Linked DNA regions of Homo sapiens. The protein of the gene in region 1 purifies or fractionates together with the protein of each later gene. This does not show direct contact. Each region holds a gene or a part of one and is shown in the gene's direction. Other genes may lie near its edges.

Region 1 (5,262 bases):
GTGAATATTTTCCCCAAATAAGGAAGGGTAGGGGGATGTGTGAGTCATGATGGTGGGATGTGCAGTTTCAAAGAGTGGAATAGCTGCAGAATGAGTAGCCAAGGGAACAGATGTGAGTTATTGATTAGAGCTGATGGGAAGGTTGTTTACAGTAACTAGAGGCAAGGAGGCATGGAGAACAGGAAAGTTGAGTTTGAGAACAAAGAACAAGGAAGTTTACAGGCTGAACTTTTGAAGAGAAATTCAGAGAAATATATTGTATCTTACACAGCTACTCCGGAGGCTGAGGCAAGAGAATCACTTTAACCCGGGAGGCGGAGGTTGCATTGAGCCGAGATCCCGCCACTGCCCTCCAGCCTGGGTGACAAGAGCGAAACTGTCTAAAAAAAAAAAAAAAAAAAAAAGAAAGGCAATAATACTCAACTATTCTCTTCATCTGAAGTTCTTAGGTCTGTACTTCCCCACAGTGCTTCAAAACAGAGGCCTCCAGGAACCAGGAAGAAAGAATGGAGGCTTTATTACACTGACACTAGAATTATTTACTATTATAATCAGAATAGTATTCTAGTATCAGTGTAATAAAATATCTAGTATCTGTATAATTTATTAAGAGCATGTTTGGACTAAGTGTAGTTTTTACATTTTTTTCTGAAAAATTTGATCCTAAGGAAAACTTGAACATCTAACACACCCAGTCTAGTAGATTTACTTAATTTTTTAGCATTTTATTTCTTTCTCCTCATGTAAATCTTACAGTGAACAATTTGAGTGTAAATTGAGCATAAATTGTACATGTGATGCTTGACCTTTAAATACTTTGTAATGCACCTCCTAAAAATAGGCATTGTCATACTAAAACCACAATACTAGTATTTCACTTAAATTAAAAATAATAATGTCATCTAATGTCTACTTTCCGTAATAACTAAAATTCTCCTCATTGATTCAACGTATGCTCTTGGGTGTTTTTGGATCTAAGATCCATTCAAGATTTTTGCATTGCAATTGTCAGTGTCTTCAGTGTCTTTTTGCCTATAACAGTTATTACTGTCCATTATATTGACTTTCAGAGAGTCACACTCATTCTCTTAGAAAGTCATACAATCAGATATTTCTGATTGGATTCTCATGGTGTGTGTAAATATTCCTTTATTTCATGCGATTTCCTACAAACTTGGAATTGGGTCCAGAGGAGAGGCTGACAACAGTTGTTTGATAATGGGTGACAGTATGTACTTCATGCTTTGGGGACCAGAAAGTCTCAAATTACTCAGTTCAGCCTTAGTTACTTCATGTCCCATGACTAGTTGTTCATTCTCTGTCATGTGCTAGTGGCAAACCACAACCTGTTTCTCAAGAGAAAAACAGTTAATCTGCACAAGAGGGCATGGATTGACTCTGCAATACCAGAGGGCTGTACTCTACATCTTCTGTTGGTGCATGCCGGAGGCTTCCAATAAATAACATGCCATTTAACATGGACACGTTGAGTATCACTGGGTCTGCTGGATCAGGTGGACCAAGTGCTTAGGAAGCTTGCATTGCAGCCTGAAATTGCTCTTGTCTACAGTTGAAACTAGAATCCTTACAGGTAACTGTGTGGGGCGTTAAAGTACATGCAAATGTATGTGTTGCCTCCAAAATTCAAGAGGTCTATGGATGGTAGTTTTTGAGAAACCTCCATGCTGGGTTTTTTTTCTTTTTTTGAGACAAAGTCTTGCTGGATCACCCAGGCTGGAGAGCAATGGCATAATCATGGCTCATTGCTCCTTGTTAATGGTAGGTGGTATTAGGTGCAGTAACTTGGAGTGACATCTTGGAGGGATGTCTTTACATGATCCAGACAAGGGAATATCTTTACCCACAGACATGGTGGCCCCAGAATCTCCCACTCCCTATTTTACAATCCAGAAAAATTTTTTTGATTCATAATAGATGAACATATTTTCAGAGTACATGTGATAATTTGATACATTCACATAATCAGGGTAAGTAGCATACCTGTCACCTTAAATATTTATCTTTTCTATATTGTAGGAACATCGTTATTCTCTTAGCTGTGTTGAAATGTATGATAGATGCGTATTAAGTGTAGTCACCCTACTGATCTATTGAATACCAGTTCTTATTTCTTCTAACTGTATATTTTACCGATGAATCAACCTCTTTTTTTTTTTTTTTTGGGAGATGGAGTCTCACCGTCACCCAGGCTAGAATGCAGTGGCATGATCTTGGCTCACTGCAACCTCTGCCTCCTCCCGGATTCAAGTGATTCTCCTGCCTCAGCCTCCCGAGTAGCTAGGATTAAGGGGTGCACCACCACACCCGGCTAATTTTTGTAGTTTTAGTAGAGACGGGGTTTTACCATATTGGACAGGTTGGTCTCGAACTCCTGATCTCACATAATCAGGGTGATCTGCCCGCCTTGGCCTCCTAAAGTGCTGGGATTACAGGCATGAGCCACCTCACTCAGCCTAATCAACCTCTCTTTATCTCCGTCTCCTTCCTACCCTTCTGGCCTCTAGTAACCATCAATCTGTACTCTATGCTCATGAGATCCACTTTTTAGCTCCCACATGTGAGAATATGGGGTATTTGTCTGCTGTGCTTGGCTTATTTCACTTCCATGATGACCTCCAGTTCTATCCAGTTGCTGCAAATGACAGAATTCCATTCTCTTTATGGCTGAATAATAATCTGCTGTCTATATATACCATATTTTCTTTATTCATTCTTTCATTGTTAGACACTTAGGTTGATTCCATATTTTGGCTATTATGAGTAGTGCTGCGGTAAACAAGGGAATGTATATATATCTTTTCAAATATATTGATTTCCTTTCTTTTGGATATATACCCAATGGGATTCCAGATCATATGGTAGTTCTATTTTTAATTTTTTGAGAAACCCCCATACTGTTTTTTTTGTTTTGTTTTGTTTTTTTTGAGATAGTCTTGCTGTGTCACCCAGGCTAGAGTGCCATGGCATAATCATGGCTCACTGCAGCCTTGACTTCCTGGGCTCAGGTGATCCTCCCACCTCAGCTTCCTGAGTAGCCAGGACTACAGGCCTCCACTAATACACCTGGCTAAGTTTTTTTGTTTGTTTCTTTGATTTTTTGAGACAGAGTCTCACTCTGTCACTCAGGCTGGGGTGCAGTGGCACGATCTTGGTTCACTGCAACGTCCGCCTCCTGGGTTCAAGCAATTCTCTTACCTCAGCCTCTGGAGTAGCTGGGACTACAGGTGCACGCCACCATGCCCAGCTAATTTTTGTATTTTCAGTAGAGACAGAGTTTCACCATGTTGACCAGGCTGGTCTCAAACTCCTGACCTCAAATGATCTGCCTGCCTTGGCCTCCTAAAGAGCTGGGATTACAGGCATGAGCTACTGTCCCTGACTGGTTGTGTGTGTGTGTGTGTGTGTGTGTGTGTGTGTGTGTGTGTGCGCGCGCGCGCGCGCGCTCGCGCGCGTGCATGCAGACAGGTCTTGCCAGTTTCAGACAGGTTTTGTGCGTGCATGTGTGTACAGACAGGTGTTGCTGTGTTGCCTAGCCTGGTCTGGAACTCCTGGGCTCAAGTGATCTCCCACCGCAGCCTCAAGTTTTGGGATTAAAGGCCTGAGCCACCACACCTGAATATTGTTCTCTACAGTGGCTGTACTAATTTATATTCCCACCAACTGCATACAAGGATTATCTTTTCACCATATCCTCATCAGCATTTGTTATTCCCTGTCTTTTTTATAAAAGCCACTCTAAATGAGGTGAGATGATATCTCATTGTGGTTATGTGTGATTTGTATTTCTCTGATGATTAGTGATGTTGAGCATTTTTTTGTATGCCTGTTGGCCATTTGTATGTCTTTTTTTTGAGAAACATCTATTCTGACCTTTTGCTGATTTTTTTATCGGATTTTTTTTGTTATCAAGTTTGAGTTCCTTATATATTCTGATTATTAATCCCAGGTGGATAGTTTGTAAATATTTTCTCCCATACTGTAGATTGTTTCTTCACTTTGTTGATTGTTTCTTTTGCTGTGGAGAAGCTTTTTAGCTTGATGTAATCTCATATGTTTGTTTTTGCTCTTGTTGCCTGTGCTTTTGAGATCTTCCCAAGAAATCTTTACCCAGACCAATGCCCTGGATTGTTTCCCAAGGGTCTTCCTCTACTAGTTTTATAGTTTCAGGTGTTAGATGTAAGTCTTTAATCTGTTTTGACTTTTTTTTTTTATGCTGAGAGATGGCATCTAGTTTTATTCTGCATATGGTTATCCAGTTTTCCCAGCAGCATTTATTGAAAAGACTGTTATTTTCCCATTGTATGCTTTTGGTGCCTTTGTTGAAAATGAGCTGTCTGTACATGTGTAGATTTGTATTTAGGTTCTTTGTTCTCTTCCATTGATCTATGTGTTTGTTTGTTTTTTTTATGTCAGTACCATGCTGATTTGGTTATGATAGCTTTGTAGTATATTTTGAAGTAAGGCAGTGTGATGATTCCAGCTTTGTTCTTTTTGTTCAGTATTTCTTTGGCTGTTTGAAGTCTTTTATTGTTGCATATAAATTTTAGGATTTTTTTTCTATTTTTGCGATGAATGTCATTGCTATTTTGATAACGGTTGCTCTTAATTGTAAATTGCTTTGGGTAGTATTGTCATTTTAACAATATTCTTCTAATCCATGAGCATGGAATGTCTTTCCATTTTTTTTCTGTATTCTCTACAGTTTGTTTCATCAGTGTTTTATAGTTTTCCTTGTATAGCTCCTTCACATTTTTGGTTACTTTTTATTTTCTCTTTTTTTCAGAGGTGGGGTCTCACTTTGTTGCCCAGGCTGGAGTACAGTGGTGCAGTTGTAGCTCATGCAGCAGCCTTGAACTCCTGGGCTCAAGGAATCCTCCTGCCTCAGTCTCTTTTGAGTAGCTGGGACTACAGGTGTGTGCCATCATGCCTGGCTAATTTCTTTTTTTTAATTGAGACTGAGCCGTGCCATGTTGCCCAGGCTGGTCTTGAACTGTTGGGCTTAAGCAATCCTTCCACCTCAGCCTCCCAAAATTCTGGGATTACAATTGTGAGTCATCATGCCTGGTGCTGGCATTTTATAGTCTTTGCAGCTATTGTAAATGTGATTACTTCCTTGATTTCTTTTTCAGATTGTTCACCGTTGGCGTATATAAATGCAACTGATTTTTGTATGTTGATTTTGTGTCCTGAACATTTACTGAATTCATTTATCAGTTCTAACAGGTTTTTGGTAGAGTCTTT
Region 2 (5,022 bases), on another chromosome or scaffold:
GATCACGAAGTCAGGAGATCGAGACCATGGTGAAACTCAGTCTCTACTAAAAAATACAAAAAAGTAGCCAGGCGTGGTGGAGGGCGCCTGTAGTCCCAGCTACTCTGGAGGCTGAGGCAGGAGAATGGCGTGAACCCGGGAGGCAGAGCTTGCAGTGAGCCGAGATCACGCCACTGCACTCCAGCCTGGGCGACAGAGCGAGACTCCATCTCAAAAAAAAAAAAAAGAAATGTTTGCTTGAAGAAGAAAGTGAAAGATAATTATAATCTCACCACTGACAGACAAACATTTTAACAGCTTGCTGTGTATCTTTCCAGACTTTTAAAAGACATAGATTTATATATAAACCAGTTTTGACAAAAATGGGCTAATACTATGCATACTGCTTTGTAACCTTTAAAAGTACATTGTGAATATATTATAAACATTCTTTCACATAAATGTTTATGATAGAAATATAAATATATTTTAAGTGAATGCTTTGCTCTCAAGTCAAAGATCAATATTCCTAACTTTACCGGAACCCACTAGAATTATTTGCTGTTGGGTCAGTTGGATGAACCCTAAGTATCTTTGGCTGCTTTTCAGGTTGGCTCTGACACGTTTTATTCCTTCAAGTACGAAATCAAGGAGGGGGATTGTCCTGTTCAAAGTGGCAAAACCTGGCAGGACTGTGAGTACAAGGATGCTGCAAAAGCAGTAAGTGTATTGGCCATTCTTGGGCCTTCTGTTTTCTCCGTTGACCCTGCCAGATTTTTTTACTGATGCAGAAATGATGGCTACTGGTGAGCCTGTTTATGAGAAATGCAAATAAACATTCCAATGTGTAGAAAAGTCAGATGCTTTATATCTGTGTTCTTGTATAGACAGAAAAATCATGGAGAAGCCAGCAGTTAAACATGGAGAAAGCCTTTCCATGAGAAGGGGGCTCTAGTGTCCAGCCAGAACATGTGGCTCAGACTCCAGAGAGATAACAAATTGACATTTGGGCCAAGCCAAAGAGCTGGCGAGGGGAGGGGGTGGGTGCTTCCATTGCACAACGTTAAGTGCAAATCTTGACTCTGCCTTCCATTAGCTGTGTGATAGCGGGGGAGCTGTGACCTCTCAGAACTGGCACTTTCTGCTGTATATGGGAGATAATATTGACCTCATCAGGTTGTTGGAGGATGAAATCAGATGAATTATGCAAATAACTTTGATAACAATGGCTATCTTAACCAAATGCCTAACATATAGGCCTGGCACACCATAGCTGGTTGTTGTTTTGCTTTTTTTTTTTTTTTTTTTTTTTGAGCCAGAGTCTCGCTCTGTCGCTCAGGCTGGAGTGCAGTGGCGCGATCTCGGCTCACTGCAAGCTCTGCCTTCCAGGTTCACGCCATTGTCCTGCCTCAGCCTCCTGAGTAGCTGGGACTACAGGCACCCACCACCACGCCTGGCTAATTTTTTGTGTTTTTAGTAGAGACCGGGTTTCACCGTGTTAGCCAGGATGGTCTCAATCTCCTGACCTGGTGATCTGCCTGCCTCAGCCTCTCAAAGTGCTGGGATTACAGGCGTGAGCCACCACGCCCAGCCATGGTTGTTTTGCTTTAATTAAGAAAGATTTCAGACAGTATCTGCCTCAGAAGCAAGCCTCTCTTTTCATGGATTGATTCCCTTCTTTTATGTCAGAACATAAAAGATGACTGCCAGTCATCTGCCATTACCAAAGAGTACTGAACTCCAAGTCAGGAGTCTAGGATTTTGCAGTGCTGGTTCTCCCTTCTCAGTCATCTCATCTGTAAGGTGGGGATAAGTAGCTGCTGTGCTCTGTACTGCCTGCTTCTAGGGGCTGTGTGGACAAAGGGAGGTGTGCTTTATCCTGATGGAATAGTATCTGTCACTTAGAATCCAATGGATATGACTGAAGAATGAAAAGACAAAACAAAACAAAAACACTGTTCAACAATAACAATTAAACAGCTGCCTATTATTAAGTGCCTGCTGTGTGGCGGGCCTCTAGTAGGCATTTTGTGTGTGTTTGCACACATACTGTTCACAACAACTCTAAGAGATAGATGTATCCCATCTTCTACAAGACGGGTAAACTGAGACTCCAAGAGTCAAGGGGACATGACAGAGTTAACAGCTAGCAAGTGACAAGGCTGGAACTGAATAACATTTTGATGCCAAGGTCCTTGCCCTTTCTATTAAGTTAAACTGAAGTTTATGTGAACAGTATTAACTCACTGAAGTTGAGTGGTAGATAAGAGGAGTGTTTAGCAGGCTGGTTCTAGACCTCTGCGTCCATCTTGGTTAGAAAGAAATAGCTCCAGAGCTCAGCCAGGTGCAGTGGCTCACACCTGTAATCGTAACACTTTGGGAGGCCGAGGTGATTGGATCATTTGAGGTCAGGAGTTTGAGACCAGCCTGACCAACGTAGTGAAACCCTGTCTCTACCAAAAATACAAAATTAGCTGGGTGTGGTGGCACGTGCATGTAATCCCAGCTACTTGGGAGGCTGAGGCAGCAGAATCACTTGAATCTGGGAGGCAGAGGTTGCAGTGAACCGAGAGATCGCACTGTTGCACTCCAGCCTGGGTAACAAAAGCAACACTCTGTCTCAAAAAAAAAAAAAAAAAAAAAAAATAGGAAACAAAAGAAAAAAGAAATACCCTCCAGGGCTCAAAACAAAGACTCAAGCTTTAAAACCTCATCATTTACACTGTCTTTCCTCCAGCATCTCATGAATATCAGTGGCTTATATAAAGTAATCATTAGGCTATTAAAAAAATTTATTCTCATGTCTCAAAACTCTTTTGGTAAAATCTTCACAAGTTTTGTTTTGTTTTGCTTTTTAAGGAAAGCCACATTTAGCAACAGTATTAGGTAGACTTTCCCATCTGAAAGATTAAGATAAATGATCTCTTTCTTTTCTTTTTAGGCCACTGGAGAATGCACGGCAACCGTGGGGAAGAGGAGCAGTACGAAATTCTCCGTGGCTACCCAGACCTGCCAGATTACTCCAGGTGGCTGGTTTATCCTCTGGCACTGCCCTGGTGGGAAATTAACCATTTCTGTGAGCCAGGAACACAATCTTGACCAGGCTCTGCTTGCTCCCAGAGGGTGGCAGTAGTAAAGCCATTTGCAGAGTTAGGGAGCATTGGGTGGAGCGGCAGAGCCCGGAGGTTGAGCCAGGCTTGTGACCATCATCCCCTTAGGACTATCCCAACTCTTCCCGTGTGCTGCATTGTACCCAGTGTGTGCAAGGGCTCAACAGAAGGACCAGAAGACATAAGACCTGCCCTCCATTGCAGGCAGCATCCCAGATTGAGGAGCGCATAGGCTTTGAGGGCAGACCTGGCCTGGAATCTTTCAGAGCTCCTTGCCTTCTTGCCTCTCCTTTTCCTTGTCTAGAAAAGGGAGGTAAGAGTACTTCCCACTTCACAGGACTGTTGTGAGGCTGAAATGAGATGATATGCCTGGAGGTACAATCATAATAACATACTAACATATTAATCATAATAACATATTAGCAACAATCAGGATAAAAGTAATAGCTAAGATATATTGAGTCCTTATGTCCCAGCCATGACTCAAAGCACCTTACATGTATTATCTTCTTTTTCTTTTTTTCTTTTACTGATACATAATATTTTACATATTTATGAGGTACATGTGAGTGTTTTTTACATGCATTGAACGTGTAATGATTAAGTCAGGGTATTTGGGGTATCCATCACCTGGAATAGTTATCATTTCTATGAATTGGTAATATTTCAAGTCCTCTCTTTTAGCTACTTTGAAATATACAATATATTGTTGCTAACTATAGACACTCTAGTCTGCTATGTAACATTAGAACGTATTTCTTCTATCTAACTATAATTCAGTACCTATTCACCAACCTCTTCATTTCCCCCTTCTACCCGCTTACCCCGCTCAGCCTCTGGTATCTGTCATTCTCTTCTCTTCTCTATCTCCATGTGATGGTTTTAGCTTCCACATGTGAGTGAGAACAATGTGAAGTTTGTCTTTCTGTGCTTGAGTTGTTTCACTTAACGACCTCTAGTTCTGTCCATGTGGCTTTAAATGATATGATTTCAATTCTTTGTTTACGGCCAAATACTATTTCATTGTGAGTATATACCACAATTTCTTTCTTTTTTTTTTTCATTTTGAGACAGAGTCTCGCACTGTCGCCCAGGCTGGGGTGCAGTGGCACGATCTAGGCTCACTGCAACCTCCCGGGTTCAAGCAATTCTCCAGCCTCAGCCTCAGCCTCCTGAATAGCTGGGATTATGGGCATCGCCACCACGCCCGGATAATTTTTGTGTTTTTAGTAGAGATGGGGTTTCACCATGTTGGCCAGGCTGGTCTCGAACTCCTGACCTCAGGTGATCCACCCGCCTCGGCCTCCCAAAGTGCTGGGATTACAGGTGTGAGCCACTGTGCCTGGTCCCCCACATTTTCTTTATTCATTCACCTTTTGATGGACATTTAAGTTGATTTCATATCTTTGCTATTGTGAATACTGCTGCAACAAACCTGGGAGTGGAAGTACCCCTTTGATAGGCTGATTTACTTTCCTCTGGGTAGATGCCCAGTAGCTGGACTACTGGATATATGGTATTTGGTGTTTTCATTTTTTGAGGAATCTCCGCACTATTTTCCATAGTGGTTGCACTAATTTACATTCTTACCAACAGTGCATTAGAGTTCTCTTTTCTCCATATCCTCCTGGCTGTGTTTACCGCTTACATGGCAGGCAGCGAGAGCTCTGTGGTGAAGAAGTCCAGGCTCCCAGGGGGTCCCTCCAGGTGTGCCACTCACTCTGCAGCTACGTTCCCTTTTTATGGACTTTGCCTCTATTGACCAGTAGGTTAGGGCTATCTGTTATGAACATTACTTGATAATTTAATACAAACTCTTTTTAATAATAGCCATTCTAACTGGGGTAAGATGATATCTCATCTCATAATGGTTTTGATTTGCATTTCCCTAATGCTTAGTGATACTGGGCATTTTTTCACATATCTGTTGGCC
Region 3 (4,344 bases), on another chromosome or scaffold:
AAGCAATTCTCCCGCCTCAGCCTCCTGAGTAGCTGGGACTACAGGCGCATGCCACCACACCCGGCTAATTTTTGTATTTTTAGTAGAGATGGGATTTCACTATGTTGGTCAGGTTGGTCTGAAATTCTTGACCTCGTGACATGCCTGCCTCGACCTCCCAAAGTGCTGAGATTACAGGCATGAGCCACTGTGCCTGGCAAGTTTTGTATTTTTAATAGAGATGGGGTTTTGCCATGTTGGCCAGGCTGGTCTTGAACTCCTGGCCTCAAGTAATCCACCTGCCTCAGCCTCCTGAAGTGCTGGGATTACAGGCATGAGCCACTGTGCCCAGCCTGCCCCCAGCCTTTCTGTGCCCTTCTGGACAGGAGTACCCTGTTCCCCCAAGCTGAGGCTCTTGGGCTCAGGTGCTAGGATGTATCTCACCTCCACCATTTACCCAACATGATCTGGGGCAGGTCAGTTCTCCCTGGGCCTCAGTTTACTCGTTGGTGAGTGGAGTCAATAATAGTTCCACTCATGACATTGTCTGGAGGTCAAGATGAGATAGTTCATGATGACCCAAAACGAGATCCCTGGTGTCTGGGACCCAGGGGCTGCCCCATGACTGACATGGTTGCTGAGGGAGGGCTGGATTCACCCTTGCTGGGAGGTCAGGAAAGACTGTGTCAGGCTCTGCCCTCTGGGAGGGGGTTGTTAAGCCCAGATGGCCACAGAGGGAAATTCTGAGGGACTGTCTGGCCCTGCGCCTTTTTTTTTTTTTAAGATGCAGTTTCGGCCGGGCACAGTGGCTCACGCCTATAATCCCAGCACTTTGGGAGGCCGAGGCGGGCGGATCACAAGTCACAAGGTCAGGAGATCAAGACCATCCTGGCTAACGTGGTGAAACCCCGTCTCTACTAAAAATACAAAAAATTAGCCGGGCGTAGTGGCGGGCACCTGTAGTCTCAGCTACTCGGGAGGCTGAGGCAGGAAAATGGCGTGAACCTAGGAGGCGGAGCTTGCAGTGAGCCGAGATCGCGCCACTGCACTCCAGCCTGGGCAACAGAGCCAGAATCCGTCTCAAAAAAAAAAAAAAAGATGCAGTTTCGCTCTTGTTGCCCAGGCTGGAGTGCAATGATGCAATCTTGGCTCGCTGCAACCTCCGCCTCCCGGGTTCAAGCGATTCTCCTGCCTTAGCTTCTCAAGTAGCTGGGATTACAGGTGCCTGCCACCATACCCAGCTAATTTTTTGTGTTTTTCGTAGAGATGGGGTTTCACCACGTTGGCCAGGCTGGTCTTGAATTCATGACCTTAGGTGATCCGCCCGCCTCGGCCTCCCAAAGTGCTGGGATTACAGGTGTGAGCCACCGCGCCCGGCCAAGGATCTGGGCCATTTAAGTGGAGTCTTGAAGGATGAGTAGGTGTTAGGCACAGACGCACAGAGGCAGGCAAAGCCACAGGCTGTTGGTTTAGGCAAAAATTGAGACTGGCTGGATAAAGTGGTCTTGGGGGACCATCACCAGAGAGGAGGCGCTGGAGGTCTGCAAGGCCTTGTCCTGCCCCTCCAGGGGTAGAGGTTCCAGGAGGGGCTGACTTTTTCTCCTGGAAGCCTCACAGAACTGCAGACCCCACGGATGGCTTGGTGTTGCCAACATGAGGCTTCTAAGGCTTCTGCGGGGAGATGGGTTGGTGGGGAGAAGCTGGGGGTGGCAGTGGACAGGACAGGGTGTGGGGACAGCTTTGGGAGCTATGCTAGGCAAGGACAAGGGACAACTCTTGGGGGGACTCACCCAGAGGGGTCTTGAATGGTGCTGAAGGCCCCCGACAGCCCTCCTGCAATAGCCACTGTAGCTCTGCCTGCACCTGGGCCTTCGCTCTGCTGTCGTCCCACCGGCAGGAGTCTGGCTAAAGGGGCATCCCTCAGCCCTACTCCCTCATCAGTGTTCCCAGTACCCACTCCCTGGCACTTCCACTCCTAGAGGGAGGAGGCTGAGCAGGCAGAGAATGGGACGTGTCCCCTCAGAGGAGCCTCGAGCCCAGTTCCAGCCAGCGGCCCACTCAGTGAGGTGCTCAAGTACCCACGTCCCCCGCCAGCTGCCAGGGTTCCCTCTCCTCCCTCCGTCCCTCCCCCCATCTGGGGAGCCCAGCGGTACTGAGGGGGCGGAACGAGGCGGGGCCACCGAGCGGTTATAGCTGGGCCTGCAGGGGACCCACGGCTCGCCTCCAGCCTCCTGCGCTCCGGTACCTGGGCGTCCCAACTCCACTGCGCGCCCAAACCCAGCCGAGCCGGTTCGTGGCCCGCCCCGCCGGGCGGCCGTCGACGCGAGCGCCCTGGCGTGGCGCCCAGGGGAGCGGGGGGCTCCCGCGAGCCGGCCGCGGCTGGCACTGCTGCTGCTTCTGCTCCTGCTGCCGCTGCCCTCCGGCGCGTGGTACAAGCACGTGGCGAGTCCCCGCTACCACACGGTGGGCCGCGCCGCTGGCCTGCTCATGGGGCTGCGTCGCTCACCCTATCTGTGGCGCCGCGCGCTGCGCGCGGCCGCCGGGCCCCTGGCCAGGGACACCCTCTCCCCCGAACCCGCAGCCCGCGAGGCTCCTCTCCTGCTGCCCTCGTGGGTTCAGGAGCTGTGGGAGACGCGACGCAGGAGCTCCCAGGCAGGGATCCCCGTCCGTGCGCCCCGGAGCCCGCGCGCCCCAGAGCCTGCGCTGGAACCGGAGTCCCTGGACTTCAGCGGAGCTGGCCAGGTACGTGAGAGGGGAGAGGCCTGGACCGCCGCGGGCAAGGGGGTCTCGGGAGGTCTGAGCCGGAGCACGGAGCCGCGCGTTCAGGGGGCACCCTCGGGCCCTTCCATTCCCTGCTCCGCGCCCAGAAGAGCTTTCCCTGGGCAGGCTCGACCCTGGCACCCGGGGGCGGTGGTTGGAGGGCCACAGCCTCCTCCCCACGGCCTTGCTGTGTTCTCGTTAGAGACTTCGGAGAGACGTCTCCCGCCCAGCGGTGGACCCCGCAGCAAACCGCCTTGGCCTGCCCTGCCTGGCCCCCGGACCGTTCTGACAGCGTCCCCCGCCCGCCCGTGGCGCCTCCGCGCCTGACCCAGGAGGAGTGGCCGCGCGCTTCCAGGAGCCGCTCATAGACCCCGCCTGCCGTCCGGTCAATAAAATCCGCCTGACTCCTGCGCCCCCGCATGCGACCCCTTCGTCTGCTTGTGTACTTTGCCGTCTAGCTCAGGGCGCAGACAGGCGCGCCCACGCCCTGGCAAATGTCAGGGGCCCCTCCCTCGCCGACCAGGGGAAGCGCCGGGCACTCAGCATTCATTTCAAACCTGGATCTCCCGGCACCCCCTCCCTCCCTTAGCCAAAGGCTTCCGCAGATTGATTAAGAACCCCTGGTCCCCTTCTTCTGGGTCATGCCCCGGGAGGAGGGGCCCCTCCACCTGAGCCCCACCTTGCTTCTTGCTTTTTTTTTTTTTTTTTTTTGAGATGCAGTCTCTCTTTGTTGTCCAGGCTGGAGTGCAATGGCGCGATCTCGGGTTACTGCAACCTCCACTTCCCAGGTTCAAGCGATTCTCCCGCCTCAGCCTCCTGAGTAGCTGGGATTACAGGCACCCACCATGATGCCCAGCTAATTTTTGTATTTTTGTAGAGACAGGGTTTCACCATGTTGGACGTGCTGGTCTTGAACTCCTGACCTCAGGTGATCCGCCCACCTCAGCCTCCCTCCCAAAGTGCTGGGATTACAGGCATGAGCCACTGCCCCTGGCTGCTCCTCTGCCTTTTTTTTTTTTTTTGAGACGGAGTCTGGCTATGTCGCCCAGGCTGGAGTGCAGTGGCGCAATCTCGGCTCACTGAAAGCTCCGCCTCCCGGTTTCACGCCATTCTCCTGCCTCAGCCTCCCGAGTAGCTGGGACTACAGGCGCCCGTCACCTCGCCCAGCTAATTTTTTGTATTTTTAGTTGAGACGGGGTTTCACCATGTTAGCCACGATGGTCTCGATCACCTGACCTCGTGATCCGCCCGCCTCAGCCTCCCAAAGTGCTGGGATTACAGGTGTGAGCCACCGCACCCGGCCTGCTTCTCTGCCTTTTATCCCCCTCTGCATGCACTTCTGGTCACTGGCTCCAGCCCCCCCACATAAATGTGCCCTGCCATCTTGAACACCGAGGACCTCCATCCACCAGGCCCCCTCCAGTTCCCTTCCCAAGGGTCTGGGCCCCTCCTCCCTCCCGCTGCCTCTTCAACCCTCTCTAATCTTCCCTGGGACTCCAATGACTGTCCTGGACCCCAAACCACCAAGGTCACATGCCCTGATGCAGCCCACCCTTGGAGCCCTCCTGTGGCCATGTGGCAGGGTCCCCCCTTGGGGCCACCCAG

Evidence for each region. The genes of interacting proteins can lie anywhere in the genome.
Region 2: the proteins of ZNF562 (region 1) and KNG1 purify together in Homo sapiens (affinity purification with mass spectrometry; 3 studies listed by BioGRID and IntAct, with this or other methods). This does not show direct contact.
Region 3: the proteins of ZNF562 (region 1) and NPW purify together in Homo sapiens (affinity purification with mass spectrometry; one large-scale study listed by BioGRID and IntAct). This does not show direct contact.

The regions. Positions count from the first base shown.
Region 1 is NC_000019.10:9,667,920-9,673,181, reverse strand, and holds part of ZNF562 (zinc finger protein 562), read left to right. Parts: intron 1-5,262. UniProt on the Homo sapiens protein: May be involved in transcriptional regulation.
Region 2 is NC_000003.12:186,719,517-186,724,538, forward strand, and holds part of KNG1 (kininogen-1 isoform 1 precursor), read left to right. Parts: intron 1-588; coding exon 589-699; intron 700-2,920; coding exon 2,921-3,005; intron 3,006-5,022. UniProt on the Homo sapiens protein: Kininogens are inhibitors of thiol proteases.
Region 3 is NC_000016.10:2,017,592-2,021,935, forward strand, and holds NPW (neuropeptide W preproprotein), read left to right. Parts: upstream 1-2,193; 5' UTR 2,194-2,310; coding exon 2,311-2,721; intron 2,722-2,941; coding exon 2,942-3,028; 3' UTR 3,029-3,164; downstream 3,165-4,344. UniProt on the Homo sapiens protein: Plays a regulatory role in the organization of neuroendocrine signals accessing the anterior pituitary gland. Stimulates water drinking and food intake. May play a role in the hypothalamic response to stress.